2 separate regions of the Homo sapiens genome follow, and region 2 is linked to region 1. Evidence: fine-mapped expression QTL. A gene starts in region 1. The other region holds a variant in brackets. All regions are shown on one strand. Distances are from middle to middle. Region 1 holds the start of CYB561D1 (cytochrome b561 family member D1). Region 2 holds the start of SYPL2 (synaptophysin like 2).

Region 1 (8,000 bases):
CCTGTTTCCAACCAGGCATACCACAGCACCCCAGCCTCTCGGCAGTGTGCCAGATCCAACACTCAGGATATGAACATTTTCCCAGCTGCCTCCAACAGACCGAAACTTGTCACTGGGGAGCTGAAAGGGTCACACTCCTGGGCAAGGCAGCCCTATGTGTATTCACTCACTGGCCCCTTCGCGTGCAGAGGCTATGCCGGACCCCAGGGAGAGCCTGACTTGCTGAAGGAGACACACATGCATCTCTGCCTGTCACACAAGGGGCAGACACGAAACACAGGCTCAGCTCACAGACAGGCTCACAGGAATATGTGATGCAAGAAGGGGGTTGAGCGAGTTGACTGGGCTGACCAGAGCTGGGTACAGTTTTAACTGTGAAGATTTTCTGGAGGAGGCGGATCTGCAGCAGATTATCCCCTGAGGAGGAAGGGGCTGGGAGGTGAAGGGGCTGGGGAGAGAATCCCTTGGGAGCAGTCTCTCTGTCTCTTACTCTGTGAGCTGTGTCGTTCCCTCCTGTCCTTCCCTTCCCTCTGTCCTCTTCTGATTGCCCTGCAGGGTGTCTGCCCTGGTGCCCTGCTCTTTGAGCTCGGCAGGTTCAAGGATGCCCCTACTCTGACCCCACAACAGTCACATTCCCCTGGCATCCCTTTTGGCCCTTCCAGGTCCCGGGCCTCCTCCGAGAGTGAATTGGATGATGAAGGCCCCTGTGGTGGTGATGGGGACCCAGGCCTGTTCCCCTTCCCCATGCCCCGGGGTGGGACCCAGGCCTCCAGCGAAGAGAGTGAGGAGGAGGGGACATCTGACGACCTCCACCCACCCCCTGACTGCCATTATGCAACCCGGCCCCCACGGCCACAGGCGGTAAGGACCTGGAATAGGGGCCTATGGAGGGGGTGGCCCAGCACTCCTGGCCAACAACATGGGGAGGAGGCCAGATCCTGTGTGCAGATGCTGTCTGTGCACCCCAGACCCTGCCAACCATGCACCTTCCTTCTGCCTTTAGTTCTGCACCTTTGGGAGCCGGCTGGTGAGCCCAGGATGCTATGTGTTTAGCCGCCGGCTGGACCGGTTCTGCTCAGCACTCAGCTCCATGCTGGAACGGCACCTCAGCACACACATGTGGAAGTAAGTCTCTCGGACCCAGAATGGAAGTTCTAGAATGGAAATTCCTAGGTTCCAGACATACTTGGGCTTCAGAAGCCCTGATCTTTCCTGTATACCCATAGGTGTGCCTTGGCTATTTGCCAGCAGGACCCCAGATAGGGAGTAGCATGAAAAGGAGGTGGGAAAACTTGGCAGCCTAGAGTTTGGCTAAGGCAGGGCATGGAAGGGTGGTCTGGGGGTGAATCTAGACTTTCATCCATCACTTCCAGTACCTTTTGGGTAACTAGGGATAGGGGATGCCCAAACCAAGATTTAAAATGAAGTTCCTAGTGGGCTGCCTCCTAGTTAGTAGGTACTAGCTAATTCCTCTCCACAGGCACCCCTGTGTCTTCTTCCTAACCCTCAGTTCCAGCATCTCCCAGCAGATGGCAGCAACTCTGGGGCTCTGCTGACCATTTCTAGGTGGGGCAGAGAGACTGGAGTGTGTCTTGTGTTGGGGGAAGCTGTCTTGTTTCTTGGCAGTCACAGTGGGGCTTTCTTTTTGCTGCAGGAAGATCCCACCGGCAGCTGAACCTCCAGCTCACCTTGTCAACTCCCCGTTATCTGCTCCCCTGAGCCCATCCTCTACAGGCACCTGCCCCCGCCTTCCAGGTCCAACCCTGAGACCTGCCTGCCCAGCCTCCATGCCCCCCACCAAGGACAACCTTGTCCCCAGCTACCCTGCAGGCTCCCCCAGCGTGGCGGCTGCCTGTAGCCAGGCAGAGTGCATGGGCGGGAGCCAGGCTATCACCTCACCACTGCCTGCCAACACGCCATCCCCGTCCTTCAGCAAGCTGCCGCCTTCCAAGGCCAGCAAGTCATCCAAAGGCAAGGACGGGGTGGAGGTGGAGGCCCCTTCTCGAAAGCGGAAGTTATCCCCTGGCCCTACCACTCTTAAACGGACCTGCATCCTGGAGCCCACTGGAAAAGGGAAACCCTCTGGCTGTAGGGGCCTCTCGGCCAAAACTAAAACAGCCCTGAGCATGGGGCTTAATGGGACAATGGGGCCAAGAGTGAAGCGGGCAGGGCCCCTGGACTGTCGTGGCTCCCCTCATCAGCTCCCCACACCAGTCAAGGCTTCTCAGCTGGAGAACCGGGGAGCAGCTGGACACCCAGCCAAGGCCCTGCCAACCAACTGCCTCTCTGAGGAGGAGGTGGCCAAGAAGCGGAAAAACCTGGCCACTTATTGCCGGCCAGTGAAGGCCAAGCACTGTCAGGCTGGTGCCCCTGCTGATGTGGCCTGCTCTGTGCGCCGCAAGAAGCCAGGCCCGGCCCTGGCCTTTGAGGAGAAGTGCTCTACACTGAAGGTACCAGCCAGGCTCCCTGAAGATTGATGAGGGTGGGGCACACAGGGGGTACCTGATACAGAGAAGATGCTACATTGGTGTTTGTGCAGGGAAAGGGAGGAAGGGGAAGTTGAGAGAGTTCCTGGACTGTTTTCTTTAGGAAGAGGTAGGTCAGTTCTTAGCAAAGTGACTCCAGCTTTTTGCCTGGTGAACCTTCCCCTATCCCTAACCCTTTCCCTTGGGCTGAGGAGATGCGGCACCCCTCCACCCCTGCTTTTGCTATAATCAAAGGGCTACTTCTTTCTGAATTGGCTGTGACCCTCATTCCAGGTACTGGAGCTACCTCTGTTCCCTGAAGGAAAGGGAGTTTGAGTCCCTGGGTCACAGCCTAACATGCCGAGCAGCAAGGTGGGTGGGCTGGTCTCACTGGTTTTTCCTCTGGGCATCAGGGCCTTGAAGGGCAGGCACACAACCCCATGTCCACTTATGCACATGTGCCCACCTCCAGGTGTGCAGGTGACAGGCAAGTTCTCCAGGGTTTCCAGTAAAGCCTGCAGCCAGTTTTATTTGCCTCTTCTGGTGGGAGCCCTGGTGTAGTGTGCTATGTGCTCTCCATATGATCTCTGCCAGGAGGGACTTACTGGAGGTGGGACGGGGGTGCTCTCCTGGGTTAGATGTGGGCCTAATCATAAACCCTGTGTGTTCTCCAGCTTCACTACCCAGGCTGCCCCTGGTGAGCTGGCATTCATCTTCCCCCTTGCTCAGTTTTACTCACCAGGCCAGCAGAAGGAAATCAAGCTTTAGCCTCTGTAGTGCACACAGTTCACTGGGTAGGACAGCTGGTAGGCCCCCACCCTGACCCTTTCTCTCGCCTCTTGTCTTCCTGCAGTCAAAAGCCCATTAACGAGAAAGTGCCTGCCCACTGCAACGGAGCCGCCAGCACCTCCTCCCCTCCAGATCCGGGCCCCAGGCTGCTGCCGCTTTTTATAACTTTATATTATTTTTTTTTAAGAAAAAAAGCTCTTTAAAATACCTCAAGACTGTCTCCCTGTTCTGTTGCTGCTATGAAAATATAAAAACAGAAACATAGAAAAGGAAGGAAAAAAAATAACAAAATGAGTGTCCTTACTGTCCCCAGCCCTACCCTGGGAGGCTGAGATGATAGGCAGCCAGACTCCAGCTCCCATAGCTTGCCTGCAAAAGTCTCTTATGCTCATTATTATTATTATTGTCATCTTGTCATTTTCAATAGTGTGAAAAATGTTTGTGTCACTGGGGTAGTCTTTCCAGACAGGATGATGAGGCGTGTGGCTCTGAATGAGTAAGGCTTCCTGAGTCTTGACACCAGAGACGACTATGGTCCCATTGGGAAGAGAAACTCGAGAGGGGGAGCTGCACTTCTGGCTCTTTCTAGGATCCTTGCCCCGAGGGTCTGGGAATTGGCTTGTGACCCTTTTCTGGTCCTTCAGCAACCCTAGGCATCCATCCCTCCCTGAATTATTGCCTGCTTTTCTTCAGCTGTTCCTGCAGCCTCATTTTCTCAGCCACTTAGGGAGCTTGAGCTGGGTTGGTCATTGCTGTTGGGATATTCCTGTTTTCTATTGGACAGCCTTCCTTCCCTGCCTGTGGGTTTGCCTTTAAGGAAGGGGTAGAACCTTTCCCAGGGAGGCCTCCTTGGGTTGAACCACCCCTTTTTTGGAGGCAGGAAGGGAAAAGGCATCATCACTTGCAGAACTGGTGGTGTGGGAGGCCACAGGAGTGTGGGAGGCCTTGGTCCTTCAGGATCACCTGGCTCCTCAGGGCTGAGCAGCTGCTGAGGAGGCGGCAGGGCTGGGAGTGCCCTAGTTTTTCCATTTATCTCGCTGGGGACCACTCCCGTGCAGATGCGAGAGGAGACTTGCATTTCCCTCCTTTGGTCCACCAGGTTCAAGGCACTATATTTTGGCGATGTCCTTTCCTATTCTCCTTGCTCTTAGGCATGGAGGAAGCTTGTTCCCTGAACAAGACAAAATGAGGTGACAGGAGACAGTGCACAGCCAGGGAAATCCAGTACTACTAGAAATCGGCTCCAAACACTTGTTTCACAGTCTTGGTTCAGCGTACCAAGTGTGTGATTTGGGGTTTCACTGAAATCGTTTGCCACAAAAGTAATTTCCACAGGCTGCTTGGGATTTAGGCCCTTGTAGACAGACACACAGATACAAATGAAGGTGGGCTGGGAACTGTTCGGTCCCCTTCTGCCTCCGGGCTCTCGCGGGAGCGGGCCTCTCCGGGGCACTCGCGTTTCCCCCCCAGCCCCCAGAGGGCGCTGTGGGCCACTCCGCCGCACTGCCGGCGGCGTCCCCGGGGAGGAGCCTCTCCTGCAGCCGCCACCGCCTCCGCGATCGCAAACCCGGAAGACGTGTTCGGGCAGCTGGAGTGTACGGGCCCGCGGGCCACGGCCATGCAGCCCCTGGAGGTAGGTCTGGTTCCCGCTCCAGCTGGGGAGCCGAGACTGACCCGCTGGCTGCGGAGAGGCAGTGGGATCTTGGCGCACCTGGTAGCTTTGGGCTTCACCATCTTTCTGACAGCGCTGTCCCGGCCAGGAACCAGTGAGTGTGCGGGGCGGGGTTGCGGAAGGGGGCGGAGTGGAGATGCTGGAGGGGCAGCGCTTGGGAGCCCCGGGAGACTTGGAGGAGGGACCCCAGCAGTAAAGGGGAGACAGAAACAGTGGAGGGATTTTGAGGGCCTGGTGGGGCGGGGCCCCAGGGATCCTGGAATAATGGGGTTTTGGGTGCTGTGGGGGAAGGGCAGACGATTGAACAGACCGAACTACTTCCTCAGAAACAGGTCCCCTGATGGAGGATAGAAGTGAAGGAGGCCGGGCGCGGTGGGTCATGCCTGAAATCCCAGCACTTTGGGAGGCCGACGCGGGTGGATCACTTGAGGTCAGGAGTTCGAGACCAGCCTGGCCAACATGGTGAAACCCCGTCTCTACTAAGAATACAAAAATTAGCCAGGCGTGATGGCGCGCGCCTGTAGTTCCAGCTACTTGGGAGGCTGAGGGAGGAGAATCGCTTGAACCCGGGAGGTGGAGGCTGCAGTGAGCCGAGATTGCACCACTGCACTCCACCCTGTGCGACAGAGCGAGACTCCGTATCAAAAAAAAAACAAAAAACAACAACCAAAAAAAACAAAAAACAAAAAAGGGGCAGAGGACTGGGCTGCCAGCTGAGAGGTGCTGAACGGGGAACCCGGGCCAAACTGTTGTATGTGTGTGGATAAGGAGGCCCTCTTGGTTGCTCACCCTGGGGCTCCTTGGCTGCTCCACTTTGTCCTTAGTTCCTGTGCCCGATTAGGATTGGGGATGGTACTTTTCTCCTGTGGCTAGATTCTTTGGGTTCCACCTAGCTACAGGGGCAGGAACAATGGTACCAAGCCCTCAGCCTGTTCTCTTTGATTCTTAGGTCTTTTCTCCTGGCACCCTGTATTCATGGCCTTGGCGGTGAGTTTAGGCTTCTATCTGATTTGTTTGGGTATTCCTCACCTCATTCTCCCAGGGAAGCACCCAGCTTTCAGAAAGCTCAGCCTTTCTAAGGCTAAGACAGGTGGAGGAAACATCTAGGGCTCATCTTTCCCTGCAGCCTATGGGATTGGGAAACCTGGAGGGCTGGGCCATAGGCAGTTGTCAGATGGTTGAAAAGGGCGGGAGGGCATGGAAGATAATTTCTTTCTCCATTGGGGCCGGAAAGGAGAAGGGGGGAGAGGTGTTATCCGGTCATCTCCCGACTTGTCCCCAAAGTTCAGGAAGAAGTTTAACATTTGCTACTCCACTGGTCAAGAAATGGGAGTCATTGTAGAGGTTGGGATGGGGAGATGTCAACCTGAATGAGGAGACGTGCACTCAAGTGCTGATTCCCAAATGTTCCCAGAAATGTTGAGCTGTGAGGCTGGTGGTCCTGGTTGAACTTATTTAACCCTTACCCTTTGTCCTCTTTGTTAGGATGTATGAGAGCACCTCCTTTTTCTCAGGCCTCCAAGCCAGACATGAGGCTTACTGGCTCTCTCCTATGTTCACAGTTCTGCCTCTGCATGGCTGAAGCCATCCTACTCTTCTCACCTGAACACTCCCTGTTCTTCTTCTGCTCCCGAAAAGCACGGATCCGGCTCCACTGGGCAGGGCAGACCCTAGCCATCCTCTGTGCAGCTCTGGGCCTGGGCTTCATCATCTCCAGCAGGACCCGCAGTGAGCTGCCTCATCTGGTGTCCTGGCACAGCTGGGTGGGAGCCCTGACACTGCTGGCCACTGCTGTCCAGGCACTGTGTGGGCTCTGCCTCCTTTGTCCCCGGGCAGCCAGGGTCTCAAGGGTGGCTCGCCTCAAGCTCTACCATCTGACATGTGGACTGGTGGTCTACCTGATGGCTACAGTAACGGTGCTTCTGGGCATGTACTCAGTATGGTTCCAGGCCCAGATCAAAGGTGCGGCCTGGTACCTGTGCCTGGCACTGCCCGTCTATCCAGCCCTGGTGATCATGCACCAGATTTCCAGATCCTACTTGCCGAGGAAGAAAATGGAAATGTGAGTTCCTGCGAACGCTGAATCTAGGTGGGACGCTTGCCTTGAACATCATGGTTCCTTTGGTGATCTATAAGGGATCTATTTAAGAAGTGGTCAGGTTTTCGCACTTCTTGGCTGGTCCAGGGACTGCAGAAACCAAAGCTGCTATTGTTGAGGAATAATTCAGTGGGTCAAAATGGGGAGATGTACTGGGTATGAGTGGAAGGTGATGGAGAGCCTGATCCTGAAGCCTCTACTTGATGAGAGACAGAGTTTTGGGTGGTGATAGTGATGTGCTGGTGGTCATTTCTTGCTTGTGTGCCTGATGAAAAACTGGGTTCCTGTAAGTTATGAATGGCATCCAGGGATATTTGGGTTACTTTTAAGAAAGCAGTGTGATGTAGTGGAGAGAGCCCATGGGTCTTATTTATGGGATATGGTCCTCTTAGGCTCTGTTGTACAACCTTAGGTACATTCCATATCTTAAGACCACTGTTTCTTCATCTGTGAAATGTTTCTAAACAATCTCTAAGTCCCTTCCTTCTCTAATATACAGCGTCTGTCAGGTCGATGTCTCAGAACACTCTCCCAGCTGTGGACCACGTGGACCACTTAGCAGACTCAGGGGGTAGTTCTTTACTCTCCCTTTACTACCCTGGAGGGACAGCTCTGCCCTTGAGGCCCTTCAGAAATTTGTGCTGATTTGGTCCCTGTGCCAGGGCACAGGGGGTCAGGCACTGTGGAAAGAAGGGACTCAGGTGAGGGTCTTCTGGACTCTAAGACGGTAAAGGCACTAAAGTCACTTTAAAGCTTTTGGAGAAGCAGGAGGGCATTGGCTTAACCAAGCCGAAGGCTGCTGGCTGGGCTGCCTAGCCCAGCTAAGATCTTCCTTCAGCCCACCTCAGGATCCGGGCTTGAGGGCTGCAGGGCCTGCGTGCGCTCCCTCCCCCGAAATCACTTCTCAGGGCAAAGGAGCCCCAGGCATCTCATGCTTTGCCCTTCTTAGGGCTCAGGTTCTTGCCTTAGCACATAG
Region 2 (10,106 bases), 23 kb before region 1:
ATCCACTGGAGAAGTTTCCTTCAAGTCCATGTGGCCTGATCCAGCCCGAGCTGCCTTCCTCACGTCTCTCTCTAAATCCCAAGGCTCTGGGAAGGCACTTACTCAATAGGGAAGCGACTTGTATAGATAATAGCCAAATGTTTGTTCAAAAGGCATTCATTCTGATGTGCTGGGGGGAGCGGTTGGGGGGGCGGACCTGCAGGAATGACTTGGATGAGACGGATACATATTTACAAGCCAGTGCACAGGAATTTGTCCTTGGACAAATCACTTAACCTTTTACTACTTATATTTATGCTCTCGTAAACCAAGTGTGGAATATTCTCAACTGCTCACCCCTGCCAAATGCTTTTCAAAAGTTAGAGACCAAGTTACAGTTAAAAAAATGCAACGACTTCAACCCAACCAGTCCCTTCCCTTCCCTTCTTCCCTTCCCTTCCCGTTCTTTTTCTTTCTTTTTTTTTCCTCTCTCTCTCTCCCCACTTCTGTCTGCCTTTTTTCTTTTTCTTTTTTTCTTTTTTTTGACACAGTCTTGCTCTGTTGTCCAGGCTGGAGTGCAGTGGTGCAATCTCGGCTCACTGCAACCTCCGCCTCCCGGGTTCAAGTAATTCTCGTGCCTTACCCTTCGGAGTAGCTAGGAGTACAGGCACGTGCCACCACGCCCTGCTAATTTTTGTATTTTTAATAGAGACAGGGTTTCACCATGTTGGCCAGGCTGGTCTCGAACTCCTGGCTTCAAGTGATACACCCGCCTCCGCCTCCCAAAGTGCTGGGATTACAGGCTTGAGCCACCGCGCCTAGCCAGACGTCAACTTTTCAGTACGTTTCAATATATTCTTTGCGCCTCATTCCTCAAAGACCTTTTTTCACTCTCATTTAAATGGTAATGACCATTTTAAAGGAGATTAAGTTTCTACTTGTTAAAGATTAATAACTTTTTTTTTGGAGACAGAGTCTTGGACTGTCGCCAGGGCTGGAGTGCAATGGCGCGATCTCGGCTCACTGCAACTTCCACCTCCCGGGTTCAAGCAATTCTCCTGCCTCAGCCTCCTGAGTAGCTGGGATTACAGGCGCACATCACCACACCCGGCTAATTTTTTGTATTTTTAGTAGAGACGGGGTTTCACTATGTTGGCCAGACTGGTCTCGAACTCCTGACCTCGTGATCTTCTGGCCTCGGCCTCCCAAAGTGCTGGGATTGCAGGCGTGAGCCACCAAGCCTGGCCAATAACTTTTAAATCACTAACATACAAATGTCTTTTGTTGTTTTAAAAAAAAATCAAAACAATACCTAGCTAGACAGGATAAAAAATCAGCAGCTTATATTCTATCGCCCTTTTGTCGGTACTGGCGGTATGTTAATCGTGAGGCTTAGAACCTTGTTTCACAGCCCTGATCGTGCCTTTTGAGAATCTTTTACGTTCTGGATATTCTGGTATGGAAGAGGAGAAAAACCGGCGCTGGGCAGTTTGCAATCCAGGAAAATAGGGAAGGATAAACCTGAAGCCTGTGCGTCCAGGTGCGCCTGGCTAGGGTTTCCGACGGCCGCGGTGTCTCGGTGGGGACCGGTCCCGGAGGCTTCGGCGAGGAGGACCCGGAGTCCCCCCCGCCCCGCGGCGGAACTAACCACGGAGGCCTCTGGTCCCTTTAAGGTGCCCGGCGAGCGGAGAAAGGGAGCAGAGGGGGCGGGAGGAGGGTTCGGGAGCGCACGCCACGTGACCCGGCGGCCAAGTTCGCTGCGAGTTTGACAGAAGTTTGAATCCGAGTCGGGGGCTTTCTGCTGCCGGCGGGGCACCGCGGCGGCCGCAGCCTCTGAGAGCACGAACAGCAGCGCCCCCGCGTCCCAGCCAGCCAGCCAGCCAGACTGGACTCCGGCCCACCGACGGCCGCTCGCGCTCCGGCCCCGCTCGCCTGCTCTGCCCCGGACCTGCAGCTCCCCGCTCCCCCGCCGTGTCCGCCGCCTCCCGGCCAGAGAGCCAAGCCACCACGCCGCGCCCAGCGCTCGCCGCGCCAGCATGTCCTCGACCGAGAGCGCCGGCCGCACGGCGGACAAGTCGCCGCGCCAGCAGGTAGTCCCTGCGCGCCCAGGACTCTCACCCGCCCCTCTCCACCTAGATGTCGGGCTGCACACTTATCCCACCCCTGGACCGCGTGTGAGTGGGGCAAGGGGACCAGCGCCTTCCCAGGGTTCCCCACCGCCCTGACCCCCCGGCCGGCTGTGTCTCCGCAGGTGGACCGCCTACTCGTGGGGCTGCGCTGGCGGCGGCTGGAGGAGCCGCTGGGCTTCATCAAAGTTCTCCAGTGGGTGAGTCGCTGCCCCGGCCCCGGGCTATTTCGGGAGCCTGGGCTGTGACGCTGACCTGAAGCAATGGAGCCAGGGTGGGGGCTGGGGAGGTGCTGCGGCCGGGCCACGGCGGAAGGGTGGGGGGCGGCGACAGGTGGGCGGGGGAGGGGCGGGCTGGGGCTGCTTCTCCGGACTTAGTGGCAGGAGGGTGAAGAGCGAGGCATGCGGAGTCCCGGATTCGGTCCTTCTATGTGCAAGGAGCCTTTGCCCAGGGCGCTCACATTTCACCCGGGCGAGAGGACCCGGGTGTAACCTTTCCAGAACTCTGATCCTGCACATACCACTCCTTGGTGACGGGAGGGGGGAGAAGGACGACGGGGACGAGGTCCGCTCTTCACCAAGAGGGAAGCCGCAGAGGGCAAAGGAGGGAAGGAAGCAGGCGATGGAAACCGTCCTGCCCCCAAACCCACCAGGGCCTGGATGATCCTGCAAGTACTGGGCTCAGGGGACAGGCTCTCGGCTCGCCGTTCCCTTTTGAGGTCACTGGAGTAATCCGAGTTCCTGTAAATGAGTGAGGGAGTGGATGAATGAATGAACGGAGCTTGTGGTTCTATGATTAAATAAAAGAAAAAAATAAGAATAAAAATCACGGCATGGCTAAAATGTGGCATGTAGAATAAAATGGAACACTGATCTGAGAAGCTGGGGCCCTGGGATCCAGACCTAGACTGGCCTTTTCCAGCTATGTCACCTTGGGCAATTCATTTCTCTGGACTTCAATTTCCAACACTAGTTAGATGTTGATCAGAACCTTCCTAGGGTCTCCTTATGCTCTAAATAGTTTGGTGTGCCAGAATATGGCCCTAGGTTAGACTTACTTTGTGACCTTGAAAAAGTCACTTGCTCAGGTCCTCAGTTTCCCCTGTTACAGTCTAGTGGAAATACTATCTTGCTTCACTAGGCCAGTGCCTAAGGCCTCCTGGGTATAAATTAGGAATGTGGACAGGTGCAGTCAATTTCTCAAATCATAAAGACTTGTAGGGGGCATTTAGTGCACTATTGCAGAAGAGATTTTAAATTAGACAATCCACATACCAAATGGTGTGTGAATAACTTAATTAATGTGCTCTCAGTACAGAATTCAGCTAGGGAATAAGTTACCATTAATACTGAGGAGGATTGAGTTCTACAGGGCTTTGGAGACAAGAATTAGC[A/G]CTGTGACACCAGTTCTTAAATCATGGTTTGGATGAGAATAATCAAATCTGGAACCCAGGGGCAAAAGTGCATTTGGGATTATCGGGCCAGCCTGGGAGCTCCCAAGTGCAAACTCTGGGACCTGGTGGGGACTCTCCACCTTTCTTACTGCCTCAAGAGTGGTTAGACCAATTGCTGATTGAGCTCTTTTGCCTTTGGCCCCTTCCCTGTTCTGATCCACCACTCAAGTGCCAGAGGGAGCCATATAAAAATGATATTAAGGCTCTGAGTGACTGGCATCCAGAACTGGAAGAGCCATTATAAGCAATTTTACCATTAAATTAGACAAATGGATCCAACAGAATTTGAGACAGACTGTCAAAGGATAAGGGAAACAATGAGGTTATTAGACCATGGACTCCTCTCCCTTGGAGGGATTCTGAAAAGCTTCCTTCTTCAATCCTGCCATCCTTCCCTCCACGCAGCACTCCAAATACCCACAACATTTCTGTAAAGGCTGTACAAAGCAATGCCCAGGGAAATGATGCAGTCTTGGGGTCAGCACTAATGACCTAGGAATTAAGATCTGATAGACTTTTATGATCTTCAAGTACTTAGAAAGGGGGTTGTGCAAAACAGAGACCCTTTTCTCTCAGAATGCTAAAACCTGGGCCCTGGGCTAGACTCTGAATTCAGATTTCATTCACAGGGTAGCATCACAAAGAAACGTGCTTTGCTTTTATTGCCATCCCAGGTAGCCTGAATTCAGGGCGCCAGTTTCACTTGCTTTGAAGCTCTGCAGATGAGGTAACATAAAAAGTAAACAGGCATTAGCACCAGAAATGACAGTGGAAATGTCATTTGAGTTTTTCACTCATTTCCTGTTTGGAGGGATCAAATGCTCCTGATTGGAGAAGGAAAAAAGAAAACACAAAGCTTGCAGTTATTGTAATGGTAATTGAGAACTTTTGTTGTCATTATTACCAAAAAGCAAAGATTTTACTGGAATCTTTGTGAAAAGAAAGTAATGTTATTCTTTTATTTGTCAGGAGCTTATCTTAGAGTTTTTTTTTTTTTAATTGAGAAATCAACTAATCTCACCTCAATTCCAATTCTGGAGTCTCACTAAGTCTATACTAAGCTAGCAAAAATAACCTGGACATAGACCAATTATTGGAGAACTAGTTTTTTTTTAAAAAAGAAAAGGACATCAAATCATAGGAGTTCAAGATAAAAAAGAAAAGAAAAGAAGTATCTTAAAAAAAATTTTCTTTTTAAGAAAAAGACACACTTTGGGAGGCTGAGGTGGGAGGATTGCTTGAGCCCAGGAGTTTGACACAAGCCTGGGCAATAAGGGGAGGTCGCGTCTCTATTAAAAAATAAAATTAGTTGGGTGTGATGACACATGCTTGTGGTCCCAGCTCCTTGGGAGGCTGAGGCTGGAGGATCATTGAGCCCAGGAGGTCGAGGCTGCAATGAGCTGCGCACTCCAGCCTGAGTGACAGAACTAGACCTTGTCTCAAAAAAAAAAAAAAAAAAAAAAAAAGGAAAATAAAACAAAAGAAAAAGGAAGATAGAGACAGATTTTTGAGGTCAGATAGGCTTCGGTTTAAATTGAGTCCCCTCTGCTTTCTTGCTTTCTAGCTCTGGAACCTTGAGTGAGTAAATATCAAATCTTTTTTTTTTTTCAGACAGGCTCTAAGATAGAGACTGGCTCTATCGCTGAGGCTGGAGTGCAGTGGTACGAACACATCTCACTGCAGCCTAAATTTCCAAGCTCAGGCAATCCTCCCACCTCAGCCTTTCAAGTATCTGGGACCAAAGGCACATGCCACCATGCCTAGCTAAGTTGTAAAAAATTTTTGTAAAAATCGGGTCTTGCTATGCTGCCCCAGCTGGCTTTGAGTTCCTGGGCTCAGGTGATATTCCCACCTCAGCCTCCAAAAGTGCTGAGATTACAGGCATGAGCCTGTTACCTCGCCTAAACAAAACAAAAAACAATGAGATAAGCGTGGGAGTAGGACCTGGGGAGAGAATTTGTCTTCCTTGTGCTCTGAGCTAACTGGTGATGTTAGTGTCCTCAGGACTGTCACAGGATTATCACCAGCGAGCATGTCAGTGCCAAAGGGGAGCCTCATCCTTAAACTGGAAAGGTTTAAGGTTGCAAAAGAGATGCAGAAGCAAGAGGAGGCGGAGGGCAGAAAATGACCGTCGCTGTCCCAGCAATGGAGGTCCAAGAGGAGAAAGGCTGGTTGGCACCAGAATGCTAGAACTCCCCCTTGTCTCAGGTCCTCTACCTCTCCTTGGCTGCTCTTTATAACCAGTTTGCTCATCTCAGAGCCTTGTGCTTGGTGACAGGGGTGATTTTAGTTCTTTCCTTCTCTTCTCTGTGTCTCAGTCACTTGGCAAAGTTAGGGAAGAAAGCAAATCTGGAGTGGAAAGATGGAGGGTTAGGAGACATGGAGGGGGTTGGGAGAAAGTGTCTTTCTGAGCTTCTGCACCCCAAGGCACAGAGCTACTCCTTCCCTCCTTGTAATCCTCAATGCACATGGTAGAGATCTCTTCTTTAGCCTCAATAACTCTGGGATGCAGTGTTTGTTTTTATTATTTTTTGTTTGTTTGTTTTGCTATGACGCTCCTTTCTTGATGTGAATTCTCAAGAGCAGGAGATAGGTGTTATTCGTCTTCATATCTCCAGCACCTGGCACAAGGTAGATGCTCAATCAGTGTTGAGTTAATGAGCAAATGAAATGGAAAGAGCACTGGACAGGGAATCAGGAGATGTGAATTCTAAGCCTGGCTCTCACATTAACTAAATGTGACTTTGGGAAAGTGACTTAATCTTTTGGGGCTTCACAGTCCCCCTCTGTGACATGAGATGATTGGGTGTGAGAATCTTTGAGGTCCCTTTTGTTCTGCTGTTCTGTGAACCTGTGATTCCCCTCAGATGTTCTCATTTTGCTCTGGTACCATCCGACTGTATAGTGTTCAGATTTAAACATATATTTTGGTAAATAAAAAATCATCGTGTAAGATCCCTGACTTGAAAAGAATCAGAATACAATAAATACTAAAGTTATTGTGGGTGTATTTTGCCCTCTGAGGAATCCGAAAGCATGATTCAGGATTGTCAGAACCTCAGGACCGTCGTTTAGACACAGCAGAACTTTTGGTAATAATGGAAAAGTTTTAGAATCGGTGCTCTCTAAGATAGTACCTGCTAGTCACATGAGGCTATTGGGCACTTGAAATGTGCCTAGCGTGACTGAACTGAATTTTTTTTTTTTTAGTAGAGACGGCATTTTGCCATGTTGGCCAGGCTGGTCTCGAACCCCTGACCTCAAGTGATTTGCCCGCCTTGGCCTCCTAAAGTGCTGGGATTACAGGCATGAGCCACCACACCCGGCCTGAACTTTTTTGTTGTTGTTTGATCCAGTCTCACTCTGTCATCCAGGCTGGAGTGCAGTGGCGTGATCATAGCTCATTGCAGCCTTGAACCCCTGGGCTCAAGTGATCCACACACTTCAGCAGCTGGGACTACAGGCATGTACCACCATGCCCGACTACTTTTTTTTTTTGGTAGAGATGGAGTCTTGCTATGATACCCAGGCTGGTCTTGAACTCCTGGCCTCAAGTGATCCTCCCACCTTGCTTCCCAAAGTGTTGGGATTACAGGTCTGAGACACTGCACCCGGCTTGAATTTTTTATTTAATTTAATTCTGATTAACTTAAACTTAAATAATCAAGCTTGGCTAGGGGCTACTGTTTTGGATAGTGCAGCTCTAGAGTATGAGCCCCATGAGGACAGAGATTTTGTTATTCTTTTTCTTTTTTTGAGATAGGGTCTCGCTCTGTCACCCAGGCTGGTGTCCAGTGGTGTGATCATGTAGCTTTGACCTCCTGGGCTCAAGAGATCTTCCCACATCAGCCCCCAGAGTAGCTGGGACCACAGATGTGCATCACCACACCTGGCTAATTTTTCTTGGCTAAATAAAAAGTTGGCTAGTCTCAAACTCCTGGGCTCAAGTGATCCTCCCACCTCAGCCTCCCAGAGTGCTGGGATTACAGGCATGAACCACCATGCTTGGCCTTTTTTCTCTTTTGTTCACTACTAGATAATAGTGCCTGGAACCATGCATAGTAGGCACTGTACATGCTAGGCATAGTACATGCTCTTAAATTTTATCTTTCTGTAGATGCTCAGGAGTGCCTTTCAGGAGAGTGCTGGTGAAGAGAAGGCTCCATAACTGACCGTTCACTGCCCCCAAGTTTTGAGTACCTACTTTCTTTTTCTTTACTTTTTTTTTTTTTTTTTTTTTTTGAGATGGGGGTCTTGTTCTGTTGCCCAGCCTGGAGTGCAGTGGCATGATCATAGCTCACTGCAGCCTTGAACTCCTGGGCTCAAGTGATTCCTCCCCATCAGCCTCCTGAGTAACTGGGACTATTAGCAGGCACCACCATGCCCAGCTAATTTTTTGTTTGTAGTTTCTGTAGGGGAGGGTCTTGCTATGTTGCCTATATGTTGCTAGTCTCAAATTCCTGGGCTCAAGCCATTCTCCTGCTTGGCCTCCCAAACTGCTGGGATTACAGCTGTGAGCCACCATGCCCGGCCCCTGCTTTCTTAAGGAACCTATAAGGAGCCATTCACTGACTAACTGCCAACGGGTAAAAATATTTCCAACTGTGCTGCCCTTCCCAGAATGTGACACCCTAATCACATCCAGTTCTGGGCACCAGAAGCTAAGAGGAATAAAGAAACTTCTAAGAGGAATCAGATGGCCACAGAACTGACAAAAGATTAGCGAATTCCTATGAGGAAGAGTTAGAGAAGTTCCACTATTACAATGGTGAGGCCACTTTGAGTAAGTAAAGGGTAATGATGCAGAGGCTTCGAGTGACTCTTCTCTACCTCTGTGAAGAAGGCGGGCAGACAGGGCTCTACTGCAGTCTTCATCATTTAATTCAGGAGAGGAGGGTATTTAGGCATTGGAGGGAGGTTTTACTGTCTTCTTTCCCAGATATCTTTAAACATGGAGACAATTCTCATTTGTCTGGAATAAACCTCCTGAAAACAGAGAGGTGCCCATTATTTGGAGAGAGGCCAATGGCTCCAGCATGGAGATCTGCAAGGCCAGGCGCTGCAAGCCGGGGGCAGTGGCACTGGACACCTCGCAGGGGCAAAGCACAGCTGTTGGCAAGCCCAGTCAAGAGTACACTGACAGTGTTACTCTCAGAGAGTGAGAGAGTTCCAGGGCTGGAAAGGGCCTCTAGATTATCTACTCCAAACCCCTCCATTTAAGATGAGGAAACAGGCTGGGCTCATGCCTATAATCCCAGCACTTTGGGAGGTTGAGGCGGGCGGATCACAAGGTCAGGAGACCGAGACCATCCTGGCTAACACGGTGAAAACCCGTCTCTACTAAAAAAAATACAAAAAATTAGCTGGGCATGGTGGTGGGCGCCTATAGTCCCAGCTACTCAACAGGCTGAGGCAGGAGAATGGTGTGAACGCAGGAGGTGCAGCTTGCAGTGAGCCAAGATTGCGCCACTACACTCCAGCCTGGGCGACAGAGCAAGACTCCATCTAAAAAAAAAAAAAAAGATGAGGAAACAGACTCAGAGAGCAGAGTGACTTATCAGAGCTCACCTGGCTAATTAGTGACAGGACCAGGTCTGGAACCTAGGTTTCCATACTCCTAGTTCAGGTCTCCTTTCACTCCATAATGCTAACAAGCATTGGCAAAATAAAGTGCATATAGCTTCTATTCTAGACTCTGGATGCAGGGCTGACATACAGATCAGCTGTCTTCCAAGTGCTTAATGTCCAAGACACTGAGTCTCGAAGAAAGATACAGAGAGTGAACAATTAAGAGAATAAGCTCATTGCTTAATAAGAACATGACATTGTGTACAAGTCAAAGGTAAGTGCACAGGAAATCCAATCTGAGCAGATGATGTGGAGGATAAGACATTTCAATTTCTCACCTCCTTTTCTTTTTTCTTTTCTTTTCTTTTCTTTTTTTTTTTTTTTTTGGCGGTGGGCGGGAGAGGGACAAGGTCTCATTCTGTTGCCAGGCTGGAGTGCAGTGGCACGATCTCGGCTCACTGCAACCTCCGCCTCCCGGGTTCAAGTGATTCTCCTGCCTCAGCCTCCCAAGTAGCTGAGATTACAGGCATGCGACACTCTACCGCCAGGCTGATTTTTGTATTTTTAGTAGATATGGGGTTTCACCATGTTGGCCAGGTTGGTCTCAAACTCCTGACCTCAAATGATCCACCCGCCTCAGCCTCCCAAAGTGCTGGGATTACAGGTGTGAGCCACCGCACCTGGCCTCTCACCTCCTTTTCTAACCAAAGTGTGTTTCCCAGAAAGAAATCTGAAAATCATAGGATGAGGAAATTTTATTTCACTTGAGAGAGAAGGTGTAGTAAAATGTGAGGAAAGGTGGAGAAGAAAACAATTCGAGTGACCTGAGACACCTCTGGATCTTAACACTGAGAAATGGCAGCATCAACAGATGACAAAGGGAAATACCAGTGGGGAAACAGTGGAGACTGATAAGGCAAGTGGAGGGTACTTTTCTCTGGGCTTGAGCCAAGATTGTCACATTGGCCCAGCCAGCACTA

What was found. PIP is the estimated chance that this variant, and not a neighbour inherited with it, causes the effect.
Region 2: its variant is the best candidate, but not a certain one, in a credible set for the expression of CYB561D1 in whole blood (INTERVAL, PIP 0.57).

What each region holds. Positions count from the first base shown.
Region 1 is chr1:109,489,268-109,497,267 of GRCh38, forward strand. It overlaps CYB561D1 (cytochrome b561 family member D1), which reads left to right and starts at 4,827. Exons shown (of 3, transcript NM_182580.3): 1 at 4,827-5,020; 2 at 5,876-5,913; 3 at 6,489-8,000. The coding sequence starts at 4,873. The coding sequence ends at 6,992. It overlaps ATXN7L2 (ataxin 7 like 2), which reads left to right. Exons shown (of 11, transcript NM_001350175.2): 8 at 663-861; 9 at 1,004-1,125; 10 at 1,655-2,450; 11 at 3,319-3,467. The coding sequence ends at 3,333. RefSeq lists silencers at 1,590-1,639, 4,598-4,827 and enhancers at 4,898-4,977, 4,967-5,467.
Region 2 is chr1:109,464,829-109,474,934 of GRCh38, forward strand. SYPL2 (synaptophysin like 2) reads left to right here and starts at 1,718. Exons shown (of 6, transcript NM_001040709.2): 1 at 1,718-2,069; 2 at 2,231-2,305. The coding sequence starts at 2,016. RefSeq lists enhancers at 1,149-1,650, 1,651-2,150. The variant A/G (reference allele first, on the strand shown) is at 3,499.